Homo sapiens: one gene and its partner. The protein of the gene in region 2 purifies or fractionates together with the protein of the main gene of each other region. This does not show direct contact. Each region holds a gene or a part of one and is shown on either strand. Other genes may lie near its edges.

The links.
Region 1: the proteins of ZDHHC8 (region 2) and GDPD5 purify together in Homo sapiens (co-immunoprecipitation; one large-scale study listed by IntAct). This does not show direct contact.

What each region holds. Positions count from the first base shown.
Region 1 is NC_000011.10:75,445,942-75,449,441, reverse strand, and holds part of GDPD5 (glycerophosphodiester phosphodiesterase domain-containing protein 5), read left to right. Parts: intron 1-319; coding exon 320-465; intron 466-792; exon of another isoform or gene 793-950; intron 951-3,500. UniProt on the Homo sapiens protein: Glycerophosphodiester phosphodiesterase that promotes neurite formation and drives spinal motor neuron differentiation.
Region 2 is NC_000022.11:20,134,804-20,138,303, reverse strand, and holds part of ZDHHC8 (palmitoyltransferase ZDHHC8), read right to left. Parts: intron 1-3,500. UniProt on the Homo sapiens protein: Palmitoyltransferase that catalyzes the addition of palmitate onto various protein substrates and therefore functions in several unrelated biological processes.

The DNA.
Region 1 (3,500 bases), on a different chromosome or scaffold from region 2:
GCTTTCCCTGGGGGTGGCCTGGGGATGGGGTGGGGCCCCTGCACTCAGTGAGGGGGATTCTGGCTCAGAGTGGCCCACAGAGTCCACGGAGGGTCACAGCTTCAGTCGGCCTCACACTGTATTCCTCCTCCATGTCTCTCTCTCTGCATGTATGCACCTGTGTCTGTGTGAGTTAGAGGCGGGGTTCATCTTCCCAGCAAGAATAAGGGCTTCCCCCTAGAGCACCTGGATCCTGACAGGTCGGGGGTAGAGGGGTCCAGCATTGCACCCCAACCTGCCCAGGGCTCACCAGGCAGCACTCACGGCCCCTTATCTGCAGCCTCCCAGGTGACCATTCTCTGTACCTTCTTCACCGTGGTGTTTGCCCTCTACCTGGCCCCTCTCACCATCTCCTCTCCCTGCATCATGGAGAAGAAAGACCTCGGCCCCAAGCCTGCTCTCATTGGCCACCGCGGGGCCCCCATGGTGAGTGCCACCTCAGGGTCCTAACAGCCCCGTTGGGGTGGGGTGCGATGGGGGGGACCTTCTTGGGAAATGGATATATGTAATGGTAGCAACCATTTGTAGCTTTTTGAGGGGAGGTACATGGGAAGGACTGGCAAAAAGGCCGGGAGTGCTGGGATGGAAGCACATCTTGAAGCGTCCTGAAGGCATCTTGCTAAAAAGATTTCAGTTTTGTCCTAAGTGCCCTGCAAAGATGCAGGAGGGTTTTAGGCCCAGGCTAGACCCAGGTGCCAGTTAGGAAGGCCCAGGAGATGGATGCTGAGTGTGGGGCCTGGGGTCTGCCACCAGGCATCAGGAGAACCCTCCAGGAGAGCTGGGAGGCAGCTCAGAGCCCACTGTGACAGTGAGTACGGCTGAACCGACGTGAGTTGGAGAAAGACGAAGGGATCAAAGTCAGCGCCGCATTCTGCCACCAGTGCACTCCATAGCCCTGCAGGAGAGCTTCGGTGAGAGGGCAGGCTCCAGAGCCATGTTGCCTGAGTTAGCATCCCAGCACAGCTCCTCACCAGCTGTGGGAGGCCCAACAGTTTCCATCTCTTTGCCTGGTTCCCCCATCTTGTACCATGGGACTAGTGAGAGCACCTGCTGTGGGGCTATGAGGAGCAGGAGTTAGCATGTGTGCAGTGCCCAAATATGCACATGGTGCACAGAAAGTAAGAGGCAGACACTGCTGTTACCTTGGGCAGGGCCATCTCTCTGGAGCAGGGTCTCCTGCTCCATGAAAGCCTTGAACCCAGGCTTCTTAGCAGAGGTAGTACACACCCCCACCCTGCCAAGTGGGGGTGTGTGTGAGCACTTCCTGAGGGCTTGGCTTCCTGGTGTTCCAGGCTGTTGTGGGACCTCAGGGTAGTAAGGGGGTCTCACATAACTGCTTTGGAAGGAGGTGCTGGGTCTGCCGGGCTGCCACTCACTCTGGAAGTCTGGCCCCCTGCATGTGGTGGGTATTATTTTCTCGATAAGACTCCAGCCCCTGAGCCAGACTCCAGTGCTGACCCCAGTCCCTCCCAGAGGCAGCCAGTGGGGATCTGGATCTGGTGTCCAGTTTGGCCACATGCTGCCTGTGCATCTTGGAGGGGTCACCAGTCCCCTCTGTGCCTCAAAGGTATGGATGCCCATGCTGCTGGTTATTGTGAGGACCAATTGGAGCCCAGCCTTCCCAGTGGGGGCAGGGGAACTCTTCTGAGGGGCTTAAAACGATGGCCCCTCCTGTCTCCATGACTCAGATTACCATCTCCTGGGCTCCCTCCAGCAGCCAGGGGACATAAGTGGTATGCTGAAGCAGGAAGGTGGCCCCAGCGAGGATGGTTTTCTTTAGTAGAAAAAGGTCAAATATATGCAGAAGTGGAGAAAAGCATATAATGACTCACATAATGAAGAAGGATGTAATGAATCCAATCCCATACTTATCTACGTTTGGCCATTCTTGCTTCATCTGTTCCCTACTTTTTTTTCTGGGGTAGTAAAGCAAATCTTAGGCATCGCATCGTCTTACCCATAGGCACTTCAGGATGTATCTGTAACACATGAGGACTTCAGAAAGATGCATAGCAACAATGCTGTTATTACACCCAGCCAATATTAAGGATAATGATTCCTTAATATTATCTAAAATGGAATCCATGTTCAATTTCCTTTTATTGTCTCGAAAATATCTTTTTACAGTTTAGTTGTTAAAAATCAGGATCCAAATGTGGTCCACAGCACGCATCTGGTTGGCGTGTCTCCTGAGTGCCTTTTGATTTGTAACAATCCCCCGGCTGGGCTCAGTGGCTCATGCTTGTAATCCCAGCACTTTGGGAGGCCAAGGCAGGCAGATCACCTGAGGTCAGGAGTTCGAGACCAGCCTGATCAACATGGAGAAACCCCATCTCTACTAAAAATACAACATTAGCTGGATGTGGTGGTACATGCCTGTAATCCCAGCTACTTGGGAGGCTGAGACAGGAGAATTGCTTGAATCCGGGAGGCGGAGGTTGCAGCGAGCCGAGATTGCGCCATTGCACTCCAGCCTGGGCAACAAGAGTGAAATTCCGTCTCAAAAAAAAAAAGTTCCCCGTCCCTTTTTTCCCTTAAGCTGTTTATTTGTCCTGAGAAATGGAGTCATTTGTCCTGTGGGATTTTTCACATTCTGCATCTGACTGATCATGCCCTGGTGGTAGTTTTTGAGGGGCTGGCAAGGGTCCCCTCTGTGTGTCCCTGTGCATTGCCTTGGGGGGCTCTGACTCTGGGTCCACATGTCTGTGTGTGGTGAGCCCAAGTGCACATCTCTGTCTTGGAGACTGTCTGTGTGTCCCTGGATGTGTTGTTCCTATGCAGATGTGGCCTGTCCCTCTGTGCATGTGTGTACGTGTACTTTAATATTTGATTGCACTAACTCTGAAGCTAAGACTCTTTTTTAATAGTACTTTGAGTTGCTGTTTTATAAATCTGGGTCTCTTAACCATAGTGTCCCACCCACCTGAGTAACCACCACCCCCCTATGCACACCCTCCTGACAACAGAACCCCACTTGGACTGGCCTGAGGCAGGTGCGAGCTCTGAGACGGGGACTAAGAATTCACCCCAGCAACGTGTATGCTTCTGGGGCCTTCCTGGAGTCCTGAGCCTGGCCAGGGAGGGCCAGGTTTCCATATCTCTTTCTCCAGGAGGTCAGCACCTAACCCAGAGAGAACTTAACTGTGTCTAAAAGCTTCCAAAAAAGACTTTCCCCTTCCCAAACACTTCCTCTGCCCTGAGGGTCTTCGCAACCCCTTCCAAGCTTCTGCCTTCTGCAGCCCCAGCCCATGCAGCAGGGAGCGTGGACCCCTGTCAAGTGGTCCCTGATGGAAGGCCTGGCCGCAGGATATTCAGAGATGGGTGGGATTCCACTGAGTCCTTGCCTCTCTCTCCATGCCTTTGTAGTCCTGCTTCCCCTGGGAGTGCCTCACACAACCCACTGGACTGGGAGACAGGTAACATGTCCTCCAAGAGTGCTGTATGCCAGGGACAGGAGAAGA
Region 2 (3,500 bases):
CCTGAGACAGCTGCTGTGACAAGCAGCAGGGACAGGAACACAGGGGTTTGCGTCCCTCCCTGCACCCAGGCCCTCTGCATAGTCGGGGGGCTAGTGGGGATCCCCCACAGCAGCCCTGACCTCTATGGCCACTAGCAGTGGATGGGGCCCACGCGCTGCCTACCACTCCAGCGCACGTGGCCACGCTGCTGCACCCACGCCCGCCTGGCCAAGAGCCAGCCCCGCCGCCCCGGCAACCACCTCCACGGCAGCAGAGCTTCACTATTTTTAGTGGAAAGCAAGAGGCTATTTAAAGACTCCGCTTCCCACGACAGCCATCCTCGGCGGGGCTGGGAGCCCAAGTTACCCTTCCTCTTGTCCAGGGCCCAGCCCGTGGAGGTAGACACCAGGGTGAGGACACAGCTGCGGCCACACCTCCCTCTGCTGGGAGGGCTCTCCCTGTCCCTGCCCAGTGGCTCAGCCCCCAGGCTTCCTTCCACCCTCCCCAGCCCTGCCTGGCACACAGGCAGCACTCAAACATGTGCCTGGCCTCCAATGCAACGCCATTCAGCCAGGACCACAGGCCCCTAAGGCAGGGTCGGCCCAACAAGATGGGCACAGGCAGGTGAGCAGCTCCCCCAGGGAGAGGCAGGGCCTGTGGAGCTCTCCACGAGCCTTCTGGGGAAGGCTGGCTACATAGTCTGTGCAAAATGAAACTGCGGGCCCCTTATTTAAAAATTACAGAGAATTTCAAGATGTTGACAGCGGAGCATTAAACCAAACGCAGGCCCTCATGATGCCCGTGGGGCTGGCCTGCTCTGGGAAGGGATGCGGCGAGTGCCATTGGTCAACCCTCGGGCTGCAAGGAGGCAGCCTCTGTCCTCCCAGTGCTGACCTCAGGATGGAAGCCTCGGGGCCCCTCTGCACCTGCGCTGGCTGCCAGCCTGCCTCCTGGCCCTAACGGGGGCCTTGGGGGTGTGTTCGCCCATCAGGCAGGCGGGGCCTGAACCCCATGCTGACTTGAGCTCCCTGCCAGCCCAAGCAGGCGGTACTGCTGTGTCCTCCCTGAGCCTGGACTCCCCCACACCAGGCGGGCTGGACAGCAGCCTTGCAGCCGTGGGGCTACTTTGGGAAATCTGCAGTGTGACCGGGTCCCTCCTGCCCAGTGCGGGTACCTGCCACATGCCTGTGAGGGCCCATATGGGCCCTAATCCAGGGGTTGGGGAGGCTTGTTGTGGGTTCTCTGACTGGGACCTGAGCTGCTGCCCACTCCTCCAGTCCTCCAGAGTGAGGCAACTGTCCTCTCTGTAGTCCCCAAGGTCAGATCCTGCCTAACAGGGACCAGCTCACAGGCCAACCCACCAGGGCCCAGAGCTCTCAGGGCTCAGTGGGAGAGAAGATGAGGAGCACACGCAGGCACCTACAGACACGTGTGAAGACATGGACACACACACAAACATGCTCCAGGGCACATGTGCATGGGTATGTGTGCACACACACAAATATACAGGCATGTACACACATAAACACACAGACAACCTGTTCTGGTGCACAGAAGGCACACATGCACACATGCAATCATGTCTGCATACAAAACACATATACATGCATGAACACTTGCATGCAGACATGCACACGTGCACACACTGGTGCACATGCATGAACGCAGACACGCCTGCACATCACTCACCCACCAAGACCTATGTGTGAACACGCGTGAACACAGGCATGCATAGACACATGCCTCCTCACACTGCACCCAGCCCTATCCAGCCTCGGCTCGGCTGCCCCTCACTCTGGGCCTCAGACACGGCCCTCCCACTCTCTGGGCTTCCCTTTGCCCCTCTGTGGATAGGGCAAGTGTGAGGACACACAAGCACTCTCAGGGTGCGCAAGAACACGGGAGGACACACAAGGACATGCAAGGATGCATGAGGACACATGGGGACAGGGGAGGCCATGTGTGGATGCTCAGGGACACTCAAAGACACGCATTCCCACAGGCAGGGCCTAGCAGGCAGTAGTCTGGGTCCAGGCTCGGGGAGGCTCCACTCCCACCCAGACCTGATGGTGCACACCAGGCTCGCCTGCCGGAGGGCCAGGCAAAGACAGGCTCTGGGCCTGGGCTGGAGGTGGAGTGTCTGGCCCGCCATGTCCCTCTGAGCCCCTCCTGGCTGGCTCCAGCCAAGCTACGGGTGGAGGGCAGGTCCAGGGGGCCCAGCCCCGAGGTTCCAATCCCTCCTCCAGGGCCACAGGCAGGGACATGCACCACCACCATAGGCCCCACCCGGGCTGAGGCCCCAAGTCCCGCCTGGGCTGGCAGGGAGATACCGCCGAGCAAGAGGGGTGGCTTAGGGGCAGAATGTCCGCCACAGCTAAATGTGGAATGGAAAATTTTAACTCAGACGTTTTCATTTAAATCAGGTTCTTCATTAGCACTGTTTGTGTATGAGTGGCACTCGCCCGTGGGGCGCTCGGGACCGGCGGGGCAGAAGCTGCTGCGCCCTTGTCAGGCCAGGCCTTTGGGCCTCGAAGTACCTGCACCTACCTGTCCAATCCCTATAGACACCTGGACAGATGGGGAAACTGAGGCTCGGGGGCCAGGAATACCCCAGGCCACATGCGGTGGGTCCCAGCAGGGGGGCTCACACTGAGTTTTCACTCCCAGGTTCCCCAGACTCATGAGGTCCCAGTCAGCAGTTCAGTCCCTCCTGGCCCACCAAGGCTAGTCTGGCCCAGGGCCTGTTCTGACTGCTGTCCTGAGCTGGGCCTCCAGGCAAGGAGAGGGCTCAGGACGATCTAGGGACCAGCCACACCATCCCAGATGCCCCAGACAGAGATAAGCCAGCCTGGCTCAGCCCCAGGCACTGGCAGCCTGCCAGGCAGCCCCAGCCCTCGGACATTCACAGGGTCCCTGTCATTCTGCAATGTGGCTCTGGAGTGAAGTCAGGGCAGGGTCGGGAGCCTGGCCTAGGGGTCTTCGAACCCTCTGCCAGCAGCTGACCCAGCCTAGCATTATACCATGGTATAAAGGGCTTCTGAAGCCCAGGGGGATACAAAACCCCCAGAAACATAGGAAGGGGCCGGGAGCAGTGATCACACATGTAATCCCAGCACTTTGGGAGGCTAAGGCTGGCAGATCACCTGAGCTCAGGAGAATAGCCTGGGCAACATAGCGAGACCCCATCTCTACTAAAAAAAAACAAAAAAACAAAAAATAAATAAATTAGCCAGGTGTGAGGGTGCCCACCTGTCATCCCAGGTACTCAGGAGGCTGAGGTGGGATGATCACTTGCGCCCAGGAGGTCGAGACTGCAGTGAGCCGAGGTAGCACCACTGCACTCTGGCCTGGGTGACAGAGTGAGACCCTGTCTCAAACAAACAAACAACAACAAAATCCTAGGAAGGCTTCCTGAAGGAAGAGGGCCTCTGAGAAACTGCCCTGCTGTATGTGCCCCATCCTGAGAGGGTGCTCTTCACAACTGGGCATCCTTCCATGCCCAGACCCTCCTAGAGAGATG